Homo sapiens: one gene and its partners. The protein of the gene in region 2 interacts with the protein of the main gene of each other region in a biochemical or structural test. Each region holds a gene or a part of one and is shown on either strand. Other genes may lie near its edges.

Region 1 (5,391 bases), on a different chromosome or scaffold from region 2:
AAGGCCATGTAGAACTTAAATGACCTCAAACTTAACTGGGGCCCAAAGTGCTGGCACATTTGTTCATCCTCATTTATCTTAATGTCGCCTGAATAATTTGATCAAATTCCTGTGACTTTGATATGCAGATGAGCTATGAAAATTATGCCAAGTAAAAATGTAAATTCAGCCCAATTTATAATTGTTCAAATTTTACATTCTTTAATCTTTTTCAAGTATCATAAAGCTACAAATGCCAGACATCATAAAAAATTACTTAAAATGGGGAGTGCTTACTATTCACAAACACATCAAGGAATTTTTCTTTAATCAGGTCAAAATAAAGTATTTTCTAACACTGATATATTGAATGATGAAACAGAGTCCTTTGAGGATTAAATGAAGTAGTGGGGAAAATAAAGAGAAAATGGTCAAAATTAATGATTCCCCATAACTCTTTTCTTATTGAGTAATCCAGTAGATTCCTGAGTTGCCAGCCATAGTCATTATATGTCTATTTTGATAAGGCTTTCTTTTAGGCTGGAGGTGCACACAGCACAATTAGCAAAGGGAGATTCTTCTTGCTCACTTCCTTCTTCTCTCCTATTTCCCCCTTTCTACCTAGATGTACATTCACTATGGTCTGAGTCTAATGTAACGGCAGAGACAGACATCTCCCTTGAGCTGAGCTGCAGGAAAAGAGGGATTGTTACTACTAAGAGTGGGGATCTATCTGCACCAAAGGGGGCCACATGTGGCATCTCAGAAAAAGGAACAACCTACACTGTCTCAAAGGTAGTGGCTACAAGTTCTTATGAGAATCCTCTCTGCCCCAGTGTCCTGAGGGAAATAGGACAGAAAAGCAATATCTTTAATGGTCTCAGGAAGAAAATGGGCAGAAAATGAAAGAGAGTTGACAGGAAATGAGGAAAATGAGTTATTTAAAAATATTGCACAGATGTACAATACTGCCCCCAGCAACTCTGTAGATCATTTCCAAGAATCTAGAGAGTATTTGAAACGTTAAAAATGTTTAAAAAAAGCTAGAAAAAGCACACAAAAGCTTCCACATTCTCCCCGAATAAAATACACACGCAAAAAAAAAACATACAACAATGAGATAAATTGAGTTCAATGGAAAAATATGGGTGATATAAAGACAAGATTTTTTTTTTTTAGTTTTTTTTTTGCCACTTTATAGCATGTACTGATTAAATTACATTTTAAAAGTATGGTATTAAAATGTATTTCTTTTCCTGATTTCTCTGGAAATCTGTTTTTTTTTTCTATAGGCAATTAGCTTCCTTCCAGTGTCATGAAGGTTTCTTTAGGATCAAGGGGCTAATGCAGATCATAATTTTGACAGGCAGGACAGCATCCTATGGAGTCAGACAACCATCTTTCATCAAATGTGGAAAGGGAAGTCTCATTTGAAAATTCATCCTTCAGCATTGACTCTTTTGGAGAAAAAGGTCAGAAGTGTAGCCAGATACTCAAATTTTCCACTGGTTCTACCCAGCATATGTATTCCATCAAAGATTAACAGGATCTGGTCTATGTTATTAATTTCTATTATTTCTACAGCCCATTATGGCCACTATGTGGCATAGTTTAAGGAAATGCTTTAGTTCTAAATTAATGAGGTTCTCTAGCAGTTACATGGAAAGGGCAGGGAAACCACATTATAACATAAAAATATCTTCTCTACAATAGAGATGGCAACTTCAATTTATCATAAATTTCACTAATATGCATTTAGCCCCTTTATTATGTTCTTTTTTGAAGAAAATGGGAGCAGCGAGATAACTGGGTTGAGAAATTTCCAGATAATTGGTATAATTTCATATGTATTTAAAAATTCACTCCCACATAGGCAGTGTGGGGGTTTTGTGGGCTTTTTTCCCCACTCCTAAGACCTCAGGTGTGTAACTTTACTCTGCCCCAGGCTATGGCAGACTTTATGAGAACCATTTAGAATGGGCAAGGGCATAAACGAAATATATGCAGAAAGGGTGATCTTTTATAACCACTATATTCAAGTCAGGATTCAGTCTGACACTGAAATACACTTACTCAATGTAATTTATAGATAGTATGTAGTTACTGAGTCTGAAAAATATCATATCAATAACCGAGGAGACAAATGGCGATATAACTAACTTTATTCAAACTACTGACAGATAGATAGACTGGTGACAATGTTTTGTCCCTTCTGCCTTGTGATGGGAGATAAAAAGGATATAAAAGGAAGCCCCAATAGTACTTTTTTTCCATTACCTTTACTCTACTTTCATGACATCTTCTTCCATAAAGATCTAAAAAATTCATTTAGAAGTTATCAGTTTTTGGCTGGACAATTGTTTTGGTCACACTAAACTTGGAAACAATTCATTTACTATACATGGAACCAGATCATGCTATACAAGACATTCTAATTGATAAAGTTATTTTAAAAAGATTTAAGTTGATGACTAGATAGGCTAGTGTTTCTCTCGTGGAGCTTCTTCCAAGATATCTTCATATGCCATTTAAGTATTTTCAGATGGAAACTTAAAGCAAGGATCCACACAGAATTAAAAGGATCCACACAGCCATTTTTCATTTGAGTATTTATTTAAGTAAGTGGCAAATTGAAGGAGAGAATCACAATTCAATTTGGTATGCTTTTCCCCCCTTAAAAGGGATATTTAGCTGCCATTCTATGGAGCAATATAAGGAAGTCTTTAATGTGTAATACTTTTGATAAATTAGGAAAGATCAGTCTTTATTGTATTTTGTATACCTTAATTGCTTTCATATCTATTTTTAAAATTCACTCCCACATAGGCCATCTGGTGGGTTATATGGGGAGAGATAACCGTGATAATGATTTGATAGAGAATAGCAGATAATGAATATAATTCATTCACGAATTTACATTCAGTGAATTCAATGAATATAAAGTTCAGTCTCAAGGCTTTTGATCTCTGTTCTGACCTGAATCTCTGGCCTTGCAACAAGCAGCACGATTCTCTTACACTCATCGTTAGACAGCAAGGCCACTGCTTCTTCTCGATTCTGGACATCTTCCCCATTTATCTAGAAAACAAATGAGAGTGGCACATTAGTTTCCATTTCCACAATGCTGCACACAATAAATGGCAAATATCAGCTCATTTATGGTAAATGTATGGACAATGAAGCTCACACAATGGGCTCATCTTCAGCCCCTCAGCTCAAAGTGCCTTCACTCAATTACGCGCTTACTGTAAGAGCCATATCGATCCGTGAAGGATGGCGGACATCAGAGGAAGCAGTTATGTTCATAAATGTCCAACCTGCGCCCTGGCAACATACATCTAGCAACACAATTAACCAGCTCCTGACAGGTGACGTTCATCTTTCTTCGCTCAGAGTAATGGAAGTGTCACTCTGAGATAATAGTGCTGGGGGAAGAAGGACTGGCAATACCACAACTGAAATCCGTCATCCTGCACGCTTGCCGCGAGCCAATTAGAGAGCTGCAGTATTATCTCTCACCAGGCAATGCTCCCAGGCCACTGCTGATTGCATTTTTATTTAATCATTTCATATTTGCGTGTGGGTCTGACCCAGTTGCCCAAACATCATCGTCAGGATAAATCTCAGTGTTTAACTGATCAAAGTAAAATAACATTCTCATCAATACTCCATTTCCCTTCTAATATCTATCCATTTCCTAAAGTAATACAACTAATGAAATATCTTCAGACTCATCTCTTAAATTTAAAAATTTAAAAAATATTAACATAGAGTAAAATTGAATTTTTAAAATAATGATGAGTGAAAGAAACCAAGCTTGACTAAACTTTAGATTTCATGGAAAAGATTCCAGTGACATTAGAAATATATCTTTTTACTTTTTCTAAGTTCTAAAGAAAAAGTAAATAAGATTTGTAAAGTTTCTTTTTTTAAACTACATTTTCATGTGCAAATATATTTAGCTCTTAATTAATAAAACTTTTTCCTTTGGATATTTAATAATTATTTTCTTTTATTGATTACTCAACTCCATAGAGACAGCAAGATTTTTGATTTATAATTATATGTAATCAAATAATGGGAAAGAAATTCCAATTAAAGAGATCAAGTAATTCTGTCTAAAATAGTATTAATTACTTGAATAAATGAAGCAGATGGAAAATGTAGCAGCACTGACCATTCTTTTTTCAATAATCTAATGTCTTTCACTAAGGACTTCTGCTTAAAAGCATGAAGTAGACTATTGAGGTTTTTCTCCTCATAGGTCTCTGGGTTTCTGGCTGATGCATGAGGACAGACATAATTATCTGAAAACAAGCCCATGAATTTCAACCTTGAACCACAATAAATAATCCTTATTCCTATACTCTTATATGTATTTAGTGCAAGGAAAGCAGGCAATAATAGTAAAAATATATATATATGGGCACAAATTGTATTTTCTTACTCCAATCACTGTCATTTCTCACTTGTATACACAGAAAGGAAATTCAGTGGTTATAAGTTTCACATGCATTCCCTATTTGTTTTTGCAATTCACAAATAAAATTCATCCAATTAGGAAACAGAAGCTACGATTCCACAATGGGAAATAATGACCGGGAAGGATATGTTGCGGTTTGTCATAAATACCTCTGGAAAAGTATGTGTGTACTGACTCCAAGGCCTTTTTTCTCAAATAAAGATAAATTGGCAGTGGTGGATTCCACTATACTTCCCCTACCCTCTATTAAGTGTAGTTTTAAAATAATGACTTTGTAGTATTTACTCTATTTGCACTTTGAGGGCTTATGTCTGTTTCATGGTAATTCTTAGTAATATATTTGCAATGCATTTATTTGTCTGTCAAACATGGACCTGTTTATTCATCTCCTCTCCACTACAGGCACATCTGATCCTAAGAGAATTGAATTGGGTGATCTTACACAGCTTATCTTCATCTTTTCTGTTTGAAATATACTTCTCACTTCTTTTATTCCTGGTCTCCACTTGACTGTACATATATATATATATATAGTCTTTATATATATAACTTAATATATATAATATATATAAAAAATATATATTTCCTCATTCTTCATCTAAATTGCACTTACCATTAATCTAAATACTTATTCATGTTAGTCTAATGCTGCTATTAAGTTTGCTATCTTAAAATGCATATAATAATAGTGCCTTTCTCAGAGGGTCTTTATAAGGATTACATGAGTCGATACAGGTAAAAATCTTAAATAGTGCCTGGTACATAGAATGTCTTCAATGCTGGCACATATTACTGTTGATGCTATTGTTATTGTTGTTATTACTATCATCATTTACATTTTAATCCTTAGTAAAGACAAGACTCTTTCGTGCTAAATAAAGCAAATAAAGTGAAATTTATAGAAGGTTATTAAATGCATAGTAGTAAAC
Region 2 (5,391 bases):
CCAGCCCCACGCTGTCCTCCATGTCCTTGCTGATCCTGGCAATGTCCTCTTGGGATATGCTGTGCTCCGAGGTGCCTGTGATGGCCGTGGTGGTCTCTCCCCAGTTGTCATCCTGGTGGGGAGAAGACAGTGAGGATGACATGACACAGGTCATTTGTAAAAGCTACAAAGGGCAGTGAACATGCAGGGCCCGCTGCATCTACCCAGCCCTATTCACAAAGGCTTCCAGAAAATGAAAGCTTAACTCTTTAAATATTAGAACTTCTTAACTCAAACGATTTTCATTGAAATTTTCAAAATGTATGAGGTATTTACCTTTTCAAACAGAGAAAACATAATGTGATCTTTCTGTCTGTTTGGCTGATTCATTGACATAACATTGATTATCATCCCCTGGGTTGAAAAGCCTTGAGCAGCTCTGAGGGCCTGGAGCTGTTTGCCCTGCAATGCGCAACCCAGGTATTAGACTAATCTTGTGAGAGCTCATCTATAGAGATAAACCTCCTGCATCTTCTTTCCAATTCACGCTGGGTTATAAAGGCTTACGAAGTCCAACTTTTGGAGGTGGGAGTATTACTACACCCTCTAGCAGCCCAGAAGAGCAAAGGGCGTAGCAAGGGAACTTACACCACTACACAAACCCAAGCTTACCTGTAGCTAGGACCCACATTTTAAAATCTCTTTATGGACTGGGGCGCGGTGGCTCACACCTGTAATCCCCGTACTTTGGAAGGCCGAGGCGGACGGATCAGGAGGTCAGGAGATCAAGAACATCCTGGCCAACATGGTGAAACCCCGTCTCTACTAAAAATACAAAAATTAGCAAGGCGTGGTGGCACATGCCTGTAATCCCAGCTACTCAGGAGGCTGAGGCAGGAGAATCGCTTGAACCCGGGAGTCGGAGGTTGCAGTGAGCTGAGATCGTGCCACTGTACTCCAGCCTGGGCTACAGAGTGAGACTCCGTCTCAAAAAAAAAAAAAAAAAATCTCCTTATGATGTTCACAAGATCCACTTAACAAGCATCAGTGTCAAGCACTCTTTAACAATATTTCTCATGGACCAAGCTAAGCAAATCCAGGAATCCGTGTATGGCCAGATTGGCTTAAAAATTCTTTCTAAAACATGTTTTCACGAGGAACTAAACATCAAGGGCATAGAAACAACCAGGATTATTAAAATGTTATCTTTTACTTTCTAGCTTCCTCTCTTTTTAAACTTCTAGGCCGTTGCTAGTTAAAGCAATTAGTCTATTCACTTAGCAAAACCCAGTTGATAGAATTTTAAAGGATTTTGTTGTTTAAAAACAACTGGCAACAATAATGAAGCAATAAGAGCAAGGCGCTGAAAAGACACAGGAGGCCAAAGAGGTTTCTGCCTCTGAAATTTGTATGTATCCTTTCACTCGGAAAGAAAACAGTCAGATGCAGTGGCAAAGGGGGTGAAATTAGGACACCAACTTAGAAAAAGCTAGTTTCAGTTAGTAGCTAAATCAGCAAGACAGACATCGCTCATCATCAAATAACTCCGAATCTAGTAATGACCAAAAAAACCATGATTTATGAAATGTATGGGCTATGGTAAGAAGCGGTGGTGGTGAAGGTCTCAATCCCATAAACTAATAATCCTTCAACTTGCAAAGTCAGAAGTATCACCTACAGTGAGAGAAATTCCTATTTCAGACGATGGCCAGAAGCAGCCAGGACTCTCCAACACTGCTGGTGGAAGTGGACCGTGGTACAGTGCCTCTGGAAAACCACTCTGGCGGTTTCATATAAATCTAAATATACACTTAGCTATATGGCCCAGCAATTCCACTCTCAGGTTTTATCCAAAAATTAATAAAAATATACATCCAGCCAGGCACGGTGGCTCACGCCTGTAATCCTAGCACTTTGGGAGGCCAAGGCAGGCAAATCACCTGAGGTCAGGAGTTCGAGACCAGCCTGGCCAACATGGTGAAAGCCCATCTCTACTGAAAATACAAAAATTAGCTGGGCGTGGTGGTGCGTGCCTGTAATCCCGGCTATTCGGGAGGCTGAGGCAGGAGAATCGCTTGAACCCGGGAGGTAGAGGCTGCAGTGAGGTGATATCATGCCGCTGCACTCCAGCCTGGGCGACAGAACAAGACTCTGCCTCAAAAAACAAACAAACAACAACAAAAAAAACCCAAATGTCCATCCACTAGGAGAATGGATAACAAATTGTGGTAGACTGATACAATGGAATACTACTCAGCAAAAATAAAAAGAATAAGCTGTTGAAACATACCAAAACATGGATAAATCTCAAAATCATTATGCTAAGCAGGGCGGGTGGGTGGGGGCAGGAGATGGACCATATGATTCTAATTATACTAAATTCAAAAACAGGCAAAATTGATCTACAGTGATAGAAATCAACACAGTGGTTGCCTTGGAGAGGTGAGGGTGGGGCAGAGATTGACTAGAAAGGGCATGAGAGAATTTCCTGGGGTGCACATGTATGCCTAAAACATGTAGATACACAAAGGATCCTGTTAAGCTTCAGGTTCTTAGAAGAAAAAGCACCTAAGATGCTTTCATCAAAACCCCTAGATTTTCAATAAAGAAATTGAGGCCTACAAAGGCTGTGACTGCTCAAGGTAACAGAGCTACTAAAAAATACAGCCTCCAAACACCCATCTCAATGCTTTTCACACCAGATCATCCTGGGGCAACACCAAGAGCTTCTCAAAGTGTTCTCAGCTACGAGGTGCAGAGGAGATGCAGAGAAAGAAGAGCCTTTGCTGTAGGCCACTGGCACCTCTGAACCCACATCCAGGAGGAAACTGACCCCTTCAAGTACTCCAGGGTGATCCAATCCTAAGACTGGCCCCATCCGACCATCAGCCATCCCAGAGCCAAGGCAGGCAGCACTAAAGGCATTTGCTCATTGCTCAATGAATCCCACGTTCAACCCACAATTGTAGTTTTGTGTCCCAAGAACACCTTGTGTACTCTGAGGAATTCCAGTTTCAGTCCACCTATTTGATTATAAATGCTTACCTGTGTGTATGCACAGGTATGTACAGATGTATGCTTATCTATAGTCCTATATCTATCTTTACAGCTGTGTATCATACACCACTTTGTTTATGAGGGGCAAGGCTGGACATGTGTATATATACTTCAGGATGTGCAGAGGGTATGCAGACATGTTTCTGTGTATAGCTCAGATGTTTATTTAAATCAGGTGGGCTGCCAGACAGTTGGAACCTGGAGAAGAACCCACTCAATGGTTCAAAAAAATTAATAAAGTATCAGTATTTCAAAAATACTGTAAAGTTAGGATTCCACATAAAATCCTGATTTGCAGCTTTTCTCAAACAATGAATCCCTGCATTCCTGAGCAACAGTAGGTGTCTGGAGCTGCGGAGCTGCTGTTTCCTTTACAGAGGAAATGCATTCTCCAGTTAGCCATAGGCTCCTTCACACCACACTACAGCACTGACACTGAGGCACTGCACAGATTGCTGTTAACCCAAAGCTAGGTTAATATATTTTTGCCCCCTCTTTTCGACCCAGGGCCTCCTTAATTAACTTACGTTTCTCTACCAGGCATCTGAGCGTGCGGCCTCTCAATTCCTGCATAGCTCTAGTAGTAATGGTCAGTCTGGGCTGCCCCATGTTTTTTAAACTTCTTAGGTTTTCTGAGTTTCCTTCTCCCCCTTATACTGTTCCATTTTGAAATGAGTCGTGGGAGACTTCAGCTTTTCCCTTCCCAACCCTGTCGTCAACCTTGCTGGCTACTTTTCCACACCATGTAAAGCAGGCCAACCAATCATACTTCAGAAGAATCCCCACGCTACCAAAGGGCAGGACAGGCTGTCCTTAGACCAACAAGAGACCATGGGACATAGATAAACTAATTAGCATGCTAGAAAAATAAAGACAAAAATCCAAGAGAACCTAAGGAAAACATTTACAGACAGGAGTCTTGGCCAAGTGGCAGTGTGCTTACAGACCACCTTTGATCCTTACCTGAACTTCCTCTGTCCGAGTAGAATCATTTCCCAACAGGGGCTCTCCAGTGGGAGGTTGAATGGTGACAGACTTTTCTGACCCTCTGCCGTCTTTATTCCGGGGTGACTTGTGTCTCTCTCTAGTTCTTTCCCTGAAAAACAACAATGAGCTAGCACATTTATGCCATGTTAATTAACTCTCTGGGTTTATCAAAATGTAAGTATCATTTTGAATTTAGGGAAATTCTACATACACACACACACACACACACACACACACACACACAGAGCATCAAAACCCACCCATCTTCACCACACTTCAAGGGGTACACTGATCTTTACTCCCTACTAAATATTTTCTTTCTGCCATCCCAAGACCCAAAACAAAGACTGTCACTCTTCCTCTATCATCAGTGATATTTTCTCAAAGCCTAAAATTGTAATTTTAGGATTTTTGTAGCTAGTTACACTTTATTGTAATAATTAGTGATTTGATTTGGTTATAATTTGCCTTAACCAGTTTTCTAGGGCTTTTAAAATTGGGACAACACTGTAGAATAAGCTTTTTTCTACAAAAAAATATCTATTTTTTTGTAGAATATCCAAAAAAATCTGGGACACATTGTCACCCTTCACCTTTGGACAACAGAAGAAAGGAAATTCAAAGTCAGTACAAAGAATTGTTTACTTCTCATTCTTACAGGTTCAAAACTAAGTCATTCCCATAGGTTCTAGTTGAACTTGAAGACACCCATAGAAACAAACAAGCTAGGAAAAAAGGCCAAAGACACCAAGAGGGGTGGAGGGTGTGTGGGTGGATGTGTGTGTGTTTGTGTGTGTGTGTGTGTGTACATGGGGAGGGTTTCAGACCTCCTGAGGAAAGCAGGCTGCTGCATCATTTTACCCCACAGGAACTTCCTGGGTGGTCTTCCAGCGTGATTGTAAGAACCCTGCCTGGGGGTCACTCATGAAATTCCAAAATGAACCAATCACTGGCCAAGCCAAGGTCACAACCTGGGCAATAACCACTTATGGGAACTGGCACTCCCCCTCCAGCTGCCAACAGGAAACCCAGAATCCCCCACCTAAGGAGTCCCTCAAGGGTCAGTGAGTTCCCTCAGCCTCCTGCCCCCACAGCCACCTTGACATCAGCCCTCCTTCCTACAACCACTTGCCGTCATTCCCAAGGTCTCCCAGGCAGGACAGAAGCAGATTTTGGAGACAAACAGATCTTGGATCTGCCCTACCAGATGTGTGATCTTGCACAAGTTATTCAATCTCTGAAAACCTTGGTTTCTTTATGTATGAAATGGTGACAATGACAACACCACATAATGTAAGTAGTGCTCAGTACAAGGATGTGGAGTAAGTGCTAATGCACAGTGGCTATGATTGCTATTACTATTAGCCA
Region 3 (5,391 bases), on a different chromosome or scaffold from region 2:
TAGAAAAACAAAGGCAATAAACGAAATTCATTTTTGATCTGTATGAGGTCACCTAGCTTTATAGATTAGAAAAGACTCAATTCAATCAGAAACTCTGTGGGGTCCTAGATATTCCCCAGATTGAATTCAATTGGGAATTTTGTCATGCAGAATTAACAATAGTTTGTCCTTCAGCCTCCAGCTGCCTGGTGCTGTTTCTGGTCCCCTGCCAGTATTTTCCTCCAGACAGCCTTGAGCAGGCTTTGGGAGGAGGAGGGGAAGGAGGAAGGTATGGAACACCCCTCTAGTTAAATAGGAAATTGGGAAATCAGCAGATGTTAGAGGATACTAAAGATCCTCAGAAAAGGCCGAGTGCAGGAATAGCTCACACCTGTAATCTCAGCACCTTGGGAGGCCAAGATGAGAGGATAGCCTGAGCCCAGGAGTTGAAGATCAGCCTGGGCAAACATAGGGACATAGGGAGACCTCATCACTATCAAAAAGAAAAAAAAATAATAATAATACCAGCATGGTGGGGTCCTAGCTACTTGGGGGTTGGGGGAGTGGCAGGGAGGCTGCCGAGACAGGAGGATTGCTCGGGCCTGGGAGGATGAGGCTGCAGTAAGCCAAGATTGCACCACTGCACTCCAGCTGGGCAACAGAGAGACCCTGTCTCAAAAGAAACAAATAAGCAAAAAATAAAAAGATCTTCAGAATATTCCTGGAGCTTTCTTTCCCCATGTGATGTGAAAAATCAAGAACTCTGATGAAAAGAAAAGGCATTATCTGAAACACTCCAAGCCCAAAACAAATGTGTGGGATTGGTTAAGCCCGGAGATCTTTAAAAATTGACATCATTTGGCCAGGCATGGTGGCTCACACCTGTAATCCCAGCACTTTGGGAGGCCAAGGTGGGCAGATCACTTGGGGTCAGGAGTTTGAGACCAGCCGGGCCAAAATACAACAAATTAGCCAGGTGTGGTGATGGGTGCCTGTAATCCCAGCTACTCGGGAGGCTGAGGCAAGAGAATCACTTGAACCCAGGAGGCGGAGGCTGCAGTGAGCTGAGATCGTGCCACTGCACTGCAGCCTGGGTGACAGAGTGAGACTCTGTCTCAATAAATAAATAAATAAATAAATAAATATTAACATTATCCATTCGACAGATACTTATTGGGCATTTTCTTTGTACCAAATACTTTGTACTTGCCAGTGACATAATGGTAAGTAAAGCATGGATACTAATTTTCAAGGAATTCATAGTCTGATGGTTGTATACAGATAAACAAAGAATTATCATCAAATGTAGAAAGCATAATGAAAGCCATCTATACAGGTTTATGAATACACAGAGCAGGAGTACCTATTCAGTGGTGTGCTGGTAAATGTTTAACAAGTGGCTTTGTCGGGGCATGCCTTGATTTATAGCATCCATCAATGTCTCTGGTGTAAATACTCCCACTATGGCCAATTTCAGTCTACCAACTTGATGTCATTGAATGTGGAGTTGCTAAGAGATGTGTGGCACACCATTATAGAGTAGCTCTCCCACATAGATAGAGTAGACTTCAAGAGCACAGAACATAAAATGTAGTAATGATTAGAAAATGATGAATTGTTAGTATTCATTACCTCCGTTTTTAATATCATTTAATTGCAAATTTATATAATTTTAAATGATTGTGTTTACAAGCTAGTTCAAAAAATTCTTTAACATTTAACAATTGGCTCCATAGAAGATGACTTTAACCAATGAAGTCTACTCTTCATTGTGGGCTAGGGCAACAGACTTTCTGCACCATACAAATGAGGGTGAACTCCTTTGCATGAGTAGCTATGTCCATTAGCATTGAAAGAAGACAAGTAACAGAAGAGAAGAGGGAGCAATGAGAAGAGCTGAGATGCTCAGAACATTGCACCGCATACAACCAAAGCAGAAAACTTTATAACCCTGCCTTTCAACTATTTTCTCCATATAATAACCTTCCGCATAAGGGGAGAAGAAAGGGAGAGATCAGTTAGCCCTTAGGTCCCTAAATAGTAAGGACAAAAAATCACATGAAAATTACAATATTCATTTCCATCCCCATGGAACATTCCTTCCAGTCTATGCTGATGTGGACTGCCAAGGAGGGCAGACTTGAAGACTTAACAAAATGATCCACTGGAAATCCTACGTTAGCAGTGGCGCTCATAACTTCATACAGGACTGCAGGCTCAGATTTGCAGGGGTGTTCACACAGTTCTGTGGAATGAGAGCAACTCAGGAGTGGACTCAGCAAATGGTTGAGTCAACTGTCATTTTTAAACTATGTCTTCAAAACTCTCACCAAAATGTATACACACAAATGCGTTATAACCTGTATCAGGCCTCTTTTGATTGCAAATAACAGAAAGACCTGGCTCTAATGGGCTTAGGTGTTAAAGACATTTAATGGCTAACTTAACTGAAGAAGTCTAAGGGAGAGCTCAGAGCTCCCTTAAGGTAGTTCTTGAGCAGGGGCTGAAGTGATGACAGTCAGATATGGTGTCTCTTTCTTTTGGATCCACTGCCATTTTCAGACAGGCTCTGCCCTCAAAGTCACAGGAAGGCTATAGCAGTTTCATAGCCCTTATATCTGCTCAGCTTCTCCCTTCTAGCAGCTGAGTAAAATTCCTGGGCTTGTCTCTGGCTGAAACATATCTAGTAGCATCTCTATGAAGCTGCCAGTACGTTAGGTCCATGGCTCCCAAACTCAGCTAACACAGTAAAGTCACCTGGGGAATGTGTTAAAATGCCAAAGAACAGGCCACACTTCCAGGCAATTAAATCACAATCTCTGGGGTTGGATCCAGGCAACATTATTTTCTTAAGGTTACAAGGTAATTCCAATGGAGAGAAAAATTTAGAAACCCCTGAATTGGGTGCTCATAAAAATAGGAGATTTTAGACTCATCTTCTGATTTACTAAGAAAGTCAAGTTTGATTAATTTCCTTAATGTCCACCTCAAAGTCTTTCTTCCTATGCTTTCCTGTCTCTGTGACAAGAGTGTCCCTCTTGCTCACTCTAGCTGGCTGCCATCTGTCTCGTGGTCTCACACTCACACTGTCTTGCCTGGTTCTAGAGTTCATCCCTCTTCTAGTTTGCATCTTGAAATTTTACCTCCCTACTGGTTCTATCCTTTTAAAAAATGCTCAGATTTCTCCCATCCTATAATAGCCTTCCTTATCCCCCATGACCCCGCCCTCCACCCCCACAGGCTGCTGCCCATCTACAGCCTAACTTTCACCTTCAGACTTCTTAAAAGAGTGGTCTGCCCTTGTTGCCTTTAATGCAGAGAATCCTTATAATCTGGTTTGGACATCAATACCCTGTGAAAACTGTTCTCTCAAAGGTCAGCAATGACCCACTTACAAAACAGAAGGGCTGCTTCTCGCCTCTCCTTCTCTCATCTTTGCTTTGGTTTTTAGATATTACGGTATCCAAACGCTATTTCTCCCACTGTTTTTCTCTCTGCCACCTCTATTAGCTTAAGAAAGCCTTGGGGAAAATGTGTGGGACGTGTATCCTAAACACATTTCTCAGACAATATGTATCAGAAGACTTGAAAGTGAAGATACATGAAGGCAACAATTTAAAGCACAAAATAAATTCTTTAAAGACAATTCAGTATCATGTATTAGACTGAAAACTGGGAAACAAACTAAAGATATATTATCCACATAAGGAAATACTACAGAGACAGTAACAGTTTCCTATGACAAGTGTGTGCTAATGTGCACAAATGGGCAGAATATTAGGAAGAAGATGTAAGACAAAACATGTATTATACATATAATTTCAACTTATTAAAAAGCATAATAATTTGTAAATCAATTTGTTTTCCTCCATTGGTTTCCATTATTATGATGACAACATATCTTTAGTGATATTTAGTTTTACCTTTTCTCCTAATTCATCTGTTTTGAAAATGAATAGAAATTTCCTTAGTACAAATGTAACTTATTGTATTCTTCATATATTCAGCTATTTAATAATGTAGTTGGAATTATTAGTAAGAAGCTCTTTCTCACTTTCTAATACCCCGAGCTTTGCCTGAATTTAGGTGGTCATCATTGACTGAGACATCCAAGACCACTGCTTTTATTGCTTTTTGTAATGGCAAGGTCAAAGTTTCCTTGGTTTGAAGGGTGCAGTAACATCCTTTAAGGAGCTACATGTAATAAATATCTGGGTGCATTTTTTTTTTGGATATATGCGATACTGAAACAAATAATTATTTTAAAAATCTGCAAATAAGATTTTCTTCTGTATATTTAATAAAGCAGCAGTTACTAATTTTAAATTTAACATAATTCTCATGTATATGGGCAAAAAAGTGGTAAGAAACTAAAAGAGAGAAAAAGATGAGTTTCAAACACTGACGGCTTGCCTATCCCTAGAAACTATGTATTTTGCCTCCTCTCAAATAGTGGGAAGTTATCAAATTATATATTTTCCGCCAGAATAAAGTGAATTTACTAATATAAGAATTTCAAATAAATCAACTGTAGTAGAAAATTAAATCATTTTGTTATAGCTAACATGAGTATAAAACAGTTTTCACAAGTAATTTTTAATTTACAGATTAAGAAACTGAAATTTAGTGGGGGAAATTCAGTTTTTTTGTTTGTTTGTTTTTGCCACACAAGTAAAAATAGGAAAGCTAGGAAAGGTTGACATATCTTCTAATTTCTAAGTCTATTCTATTTCCCCTACCATAAGGAATGCTGAGAGATTAGTGTGGTGTTGTCTTGATTAATTTCTCTTTATTATTCTAGATAGGCAGGTCTATGGTTTCTATCCGTTTCTAGAAGAGAAAAAAAATGGCAAAAATGAAACACTGGGGTTCCTCCTGTCCTCCACTTGTGATCTTAGGAATGATTCTTAACTTCTCTGAACCTCTTCTTTTTCATCTGTATGGTGGGGATAATGACGATAATATTGCAAGATTTAAATGAGTTAGTACATGTAAAATGTTTAGAATAGTACCTGGCAGAAAGTAAGTGCTCAATAAATGTTAGCTATCCTTATTTCCATTCTTCCTCCTAAACATTTCCCAAAAGTATATAAGTTAATCGATTAGAATGCCTATCCTACATTGGCCCTCCTTTTCCCAGTAATGAACCAGATATTTCTTCCTAACCTGCTACAATCATATAAGAAGGGTGTAGACTCCTTCTTGTTTATATGGGGTCATACAAGGCATAGCCAAAATTTCCTCTGGAGGATGGGTACCTCCTGGAACGAGGTAAAGTATTTCTAGCATCCAATTCCCATTTGGAAGACAGGGGAGAAATAAATGCGCCATTATGATAATTCTAACTAGTTATATAAACGAAAAGCTTCAGTCCAGTGGAGAGTAAAGCGGTCCAAGCCACTGTTCAATGTA
Region 4 (4,937 bases), on a different chromosome or scaffold from region 2:
TAATGATGCTTGCAATATCCTTTAGCTGTCTATCAGTTCTGGTCTTTATTCAGGCCCAAAGAGAGAAGAAAGAAGTAGACTAAGATAAAATGGGTAGTCTGTGTATTCATGTAGTGAATATATTCAAGACATAAATATGAGACAGAAAGGTCACTTCTGCAACAAACTAAGTCTGATCAGAGTTAAGTTAGCTTCCCTCTCTGAGCCTTTATTTTTCTCATCTCTAAGACAGATTCATCCTAGAAGCTCTCTGGTCCTTTTTAGCTTCAATGTTCTATGATTGGTTCTCATTTAATTGATGCACCAACTGAAACACTCACTAATCATACATTTTGCTGGAGGTTGATCAATCCTTAGCAAATCAGGAAGAAATGAATGTTCCACTTACTTCGTGCAGAAGCTCAGGAAGCTGGGCTCTAAAGGCCCAAGTTTTTGTTGTTGTTGTTGTTGTTGTTGTTTTGCCTGAAGCAATGTATGTAATTTAATAATTTAAATAGTGTTTAATTAAATAGTGTCTTGTTTAAATGCTATATAACATTTTCAACTGCGGCTGCACACCAGAATCACTCAATGAACTTTATTTTACTGCTGCTTGAGTCCCACCCTCAGAGGTTCCTTTTAATTGATCTGTGTGCAGCCTGGGCATGGGGACGTTTATAAGCTCTCCAGATGATTCTAACCTGAGCAAAGGGAATGATGACTGGCATAGAGCAATGAGTCTCAAACTTTAGCATGAATCAGTCACCTGGAAGGATTACAAAAACACAGATTGTGAGATGCCACGCTCAGAGTTTTTGATTCACTAGGTCTGGAACTTCTTTTTTCTCTTCTGGGAACTTGCTTTTTGTTTTTTGTTTGTTTGTTTTTTTGTTTTTGAGACAAGGTCTCACTCCGTTGCTCAGGCTAGAATGAAGTGGAGCAATCACGGCTCACTGCACCTCAGTCTCCTGGGCTCAAGCAATCCTCCCGTGTAGCTGGGCCTACAGGAATGCACCACTAATTTGTTTGACTTTTAGTAAAGACAGGGTTTCACCACATTGTGCAGGCTGGTCTCAAAACTCCTGAGCTCAAGTGACCCACCTGCCTAGGCCTCCTAGAGTGCTGGGATTACAGGCATGAGCCACCATGCCCAGCCTATGAACTTGCTTTTCTAACAAGTTCCCCAGTAACGCTGATGCTTTTGTCAGGACCTTGCTTTGAGAACCACTTCCAGTGAGAGAATATCATTGATGCTGGCATCTGAAGTCCTGAGTTTAAATCCTGATTCTATTATTACCACCTACATAATCCTAGTCAAGTAATTTTTTCTCTCATTTTTAGTCTCTTTGTGACAATACTTAGATCCCAGAGTTATGAGACATGAAATAATGTACCAATCAGAGTTTGGTACAGTCCCTGGCATAGAACACAATAACAAATATTAACTTCCTTTTTCCATTATACATGGCTAGATGGAACAATTAAGTTAAATCGATAACACATAAGTTGAAACTTCACAGGAAAACAAAGTACAGCTAGTTGAAGCAAACAATATCTTATAATTATACATGTAATACAGAATGATAGAGAAATGTTTTAAGTACTTAAAAATACCTTCGTTCAATTTTCAAAACTTTGAACGTAATAATTTAGGTAGTAGGAACATTAGATGCAATCTATAGAAGAAATATTAGACTCAATCTATGAAGAACATGAATTTTTTTACAACCTATAATGGATCCTGATACCTCATCTATAATTTTAGTTTTCTATAGAATCAATAATATAATTAGTGTACCTGCTTAAAACTGTATTACATTGATCTTCAATGCTACTTAATTTCTGAGAAAACCTAAGTTATAAGAGTACATCAGAATCTCTATTATCAACCAAAGCAAAACTTCTACCAACGACAGAATGGATACTTTTTAAACAAATTTACATATACCAACAAGCAAAAAACTAGAGCTTTCATTCCTGCTTGACATTTTTTTCACTTTGTGTGTCTCAAGGCTCTCTCAGGAATCAGTGTCCAAACCATGAGGTGAATCCTGGGAGGTAAGCAAGCTTGCTGTAGAAGCCGCTGTACATGCCTTCAGGAACAGAAAGGGTACCAGAGGCTGTGCCCTCCTAGTGTGGCTGGTTGGAGTGACAACTAGAATGTTGTCCGTGTTTTTCTGTGGAACCTACAATGAGTCCAGTTGTCTAAGTGAGTCTCAAAGGTATTGAATAGTTGATGTCAAAAGGCACTTTATGTCAGGACTGTTTAAAGCAAGTTTCTCCCTATACCAGTAGTGACCCAGAGGCAAGGTCTTACCGGACCTCTTATTTTCAAAAGCCTTCCCTTTCCAATTGAGCCTGATGCCATTATGTGACATCTTTTTTTCCCTGAATTTCTAAAAGAAAATGTGATGATTACCTGCATATCTTCTTTGTTGCTGCATCGTGTTTTGCATGGTACCCCTTTAATATTGTTTTCAATACTTAGCCTGCTGATATACTTTTAACTTCTCACCTGTTTATGAATTCTCTTAACTAGGCTGTGAGGCCCTTAAGGGTCTTCAACTTGTCCCTTTCCTCCACGTAACTTTCTCAAACGCCCCAGTTCTCAGTAACTTTTCTCTTTTGCTGTCTGTAATATAAACATGACCCCTACTTACACTGTCCTACCTATGTGGCCAATAAGAGTGTTGTCTTCGCAGTTGGAACCCAAAAGCCCTATGGGATGGAGGATATGCACTGTACTTCTTTGTAAAAGTGTCTTGACAAAGCTGATGTCCAATCAACATTTAATTACCAGACTGTCCAAGCTAGAAATGAAATACAGTTGATTGCCTGAGTCCTGATAATCTTGCTAACAAAATTATAAAAGGCCTATAGTATGGCCAATATATTTGGCTAATGGAAATGATTTTCTTAAAGCCAGAAAATTCAGCTACCCATAGTGCTTAAAACCAGCCTTAAAAGAACATGAACAGGATGGTTCCCACCTTATCGAGATCACTGGCATTCCATAGTATCCATTCATTCATATCCTCCTCCTAGGCCGCATGAAACACCTACCACATTTCCCTACCTCCTAAAGCAAACAAAACTCTTTTCCTCCCTCTTGCTGCAAAAAGGTTTATTAAAAGCCGTATGTAGTGTATAAAGCCTTTCAAAAATACTAGCAATCCATGCCTTTCTTTTTTTGAGATGGAGTCTTGCTCTGTAGCCCAGGCTGGAGTGCAGTGGCGTGATCTTGGCTCACTGCAACCTCCGTCTCCCAGGTCCTGGTTCAAACAGTTCTCCTGCCTCAGCCTCCTGAGTAGCTGGAATTACAGGAACGCGCCACCATGTCCAGGTAATTTTTGTATTTTCAGTAGACATGGGGTTTCACCATGTTGGCCAGGCTGGTCTTGAACTCCTGACCTTGTGATCTGCCTGCCTCGGCCTCCCAAAGTGCTGAGATGACAGGTGTGAGCCGCTGCACCCGGCCTCATTTTAACTAAATCTGAAGCCAGAGTTGATTTGATGCCCATCCTGCCAGGGAGGCAGTTCCTTCCCTCAGGTTTGTTAGTAGAAACCAAAAAGTAGCCTGAGAGGGTTCAGGTGCCACCTTGGAGGCACTACCTTATCTTTTGTCCTTTTAGAGTTTTCTTGCTGGGGTGTTTGGCTCCAGCACTATAGCCCTTACCACAATCATTCCACCTGGTTCTTCAATAGGACTCTGAGGTATCAAAAAAGTCACTAGGGCAGCCCAGAGATTGGTACGATTTACCTTTACACCTCAAAGTTTTTTAGATGTGAGCAGCGCTGGATTATGGCAATTTACCTTATAATAACTCACCATAGTTGGCTGTTATAAGAATAAATATTGTTCTTCTAAGATTTTTAATTAGTTGCTTCAGTTATTACATTTTTTTCTATTTTTTTTTTAAATAGAGATGAGGTTTTGCTATGTTGCCCAGGCTGGTCTCCTGGACTCAAGCAATCTCCCACTTCAGGCTACCAAAGTGCTGGGATTTACAGGCATGAGCCACCTCTCCCAGTCTCAGTTATTATTTTAATAAATGAGACTGAACGTCCTCTTATAAGGCTCACTCCCTTGTTCCTACTACATTTGCTCTGTTTAAGTATCTCTTTAAATTCTTCAGTTAAGATCATCCCTTTTATCAGAAACCTAGACACCACAAAGTAGCTTTCTCACCTTTAATTCTCCATAGGGATCACTATTATACTATAATATTTGCATACGTATGTGTATATATGTATTTGCTTTTTTAAAAAAGTAAAAATGCTCTTCTCACTCTTTGTCGATATAGGCACCCAGGTACGTAGTTAGAAATTAAATAAAGGCCACAATAATTTCCCAAGGAAGATCATTAAAAAGAAAAATCCTTTCTTCCTCTAATATCACATAGCTGGCCTTTATGGCATGCCAGCTAAGAAAAAAGGTATTGCCTATGGTGACAGGAAGACTCAATCTTTCTCTCTTTGGGTTGTAGCTGAATTTCTATCAAAAGTCCTAGTAAAATATATAACTCCTCATTTGTTCTAAGCCAAGTCTTTTCTTCAGTTTTCCTTCAAACAATACCTTTACTTTCCCATTAGAATATGAAGAATTGGAGACTGTGAACAGCAAGGTTTGGGGTGGGTATCAGTCACTTCAAATCTGGCTATGCAGAGAGAGGGAAAGACATGGCAGAATAGCAGGGGTGGAGGGTGAGTGAAATGTATCTTCATTGGGAGTATTGAAAGAGAGCAAGTTTTTCAAAGTTGTTGCCGGTATCTCATGAAAGCCCAGGCTGCTACCATGGTGAGGGCAAACACTGGCACCAGCACCATAAATATGGGAATACCACTTGGGTCCCCTTCACCTCGATGTCCTATAGGTCCATTCTGCACCTGTAACTGGAAGGGAAAGAAAAATGTTAACTCTAGTGACTAATGTGTGTTTGCAACTGAAACGCCCAGGT

Evidence for each region.
Region 1: the proteins of VANGL1 (region 2) and PDZRN4 interact in a test that uses a peptide from one of them, tested with the Homo sapiens proteins (one large-scale study listed by IntAct).
Region 3: the proteins of VANGL1 (region 2) and GRIP1 interact in a test that uses a peptide from one of them, tested with the Homo sapiens proteins (one large-scale study listed by IntAct).
Region 4: the proteins of VANGL1 (region 2) and SYNJ2BP interact in a test that uses a peptide from one of them, tested with the Homo sapiens proteins (one large-scale study listed by IntAct).

The regions. Positions count from the first base shown.
Region 1 is NC_000012.12:41,561,214-41,566,604, reverse strand, and holds part of PDZRN4 (PDZ domain-containing RING finger protein 4), read right to left. Parts: intron 3,058-5,391; coding exon 2,956-3,057; intron 775-2,955; exon of another isoform or gene 299-774; intron 1-298.
Region 2 is NC_000001.11:115,658,382-115,663,772, reverse strand, and holds part of VANGL1 (vang-like protein 1), read right to left. Parts: intron 4,133-5,391; coding exon 4,000-4,132; intron 113-3,999; coding exon 1-112.
Region 3 is NC_000012.12:66,668,292-66,673,682, forward strand, and holds part of GRIP1 (glutamate receptor-interacting protein 1), read right to left. Parts: intron 1-5,391. UniProt on the Homo sapiens protein: May play a role as a localized scaffold for the assembly of a multiprotein signaling complex and as mediator of the trafficking of its binding partners at specific subcellular location in neurons.
Region 4 is NC_000014.9:70,368,260-70,373,196, forward strand, and holds part of SYNJ2BP (synaptojanin-2-binding protein), read right to left. Parts: intron 4,873-4,937; coding exon 4,732-4,872; 3' UTR 1-4,731. Other genes in the region: SYNJ2BP-COX16 protein, read right to left, coding at 4,774-4,872. UniProt on the Homo sapiens protein: Regulates endocytosis of activin type 2 receptor kinases through the Ral/RALBP1-dependent pathway and may be involved in suppression of activin-induced signal transduction.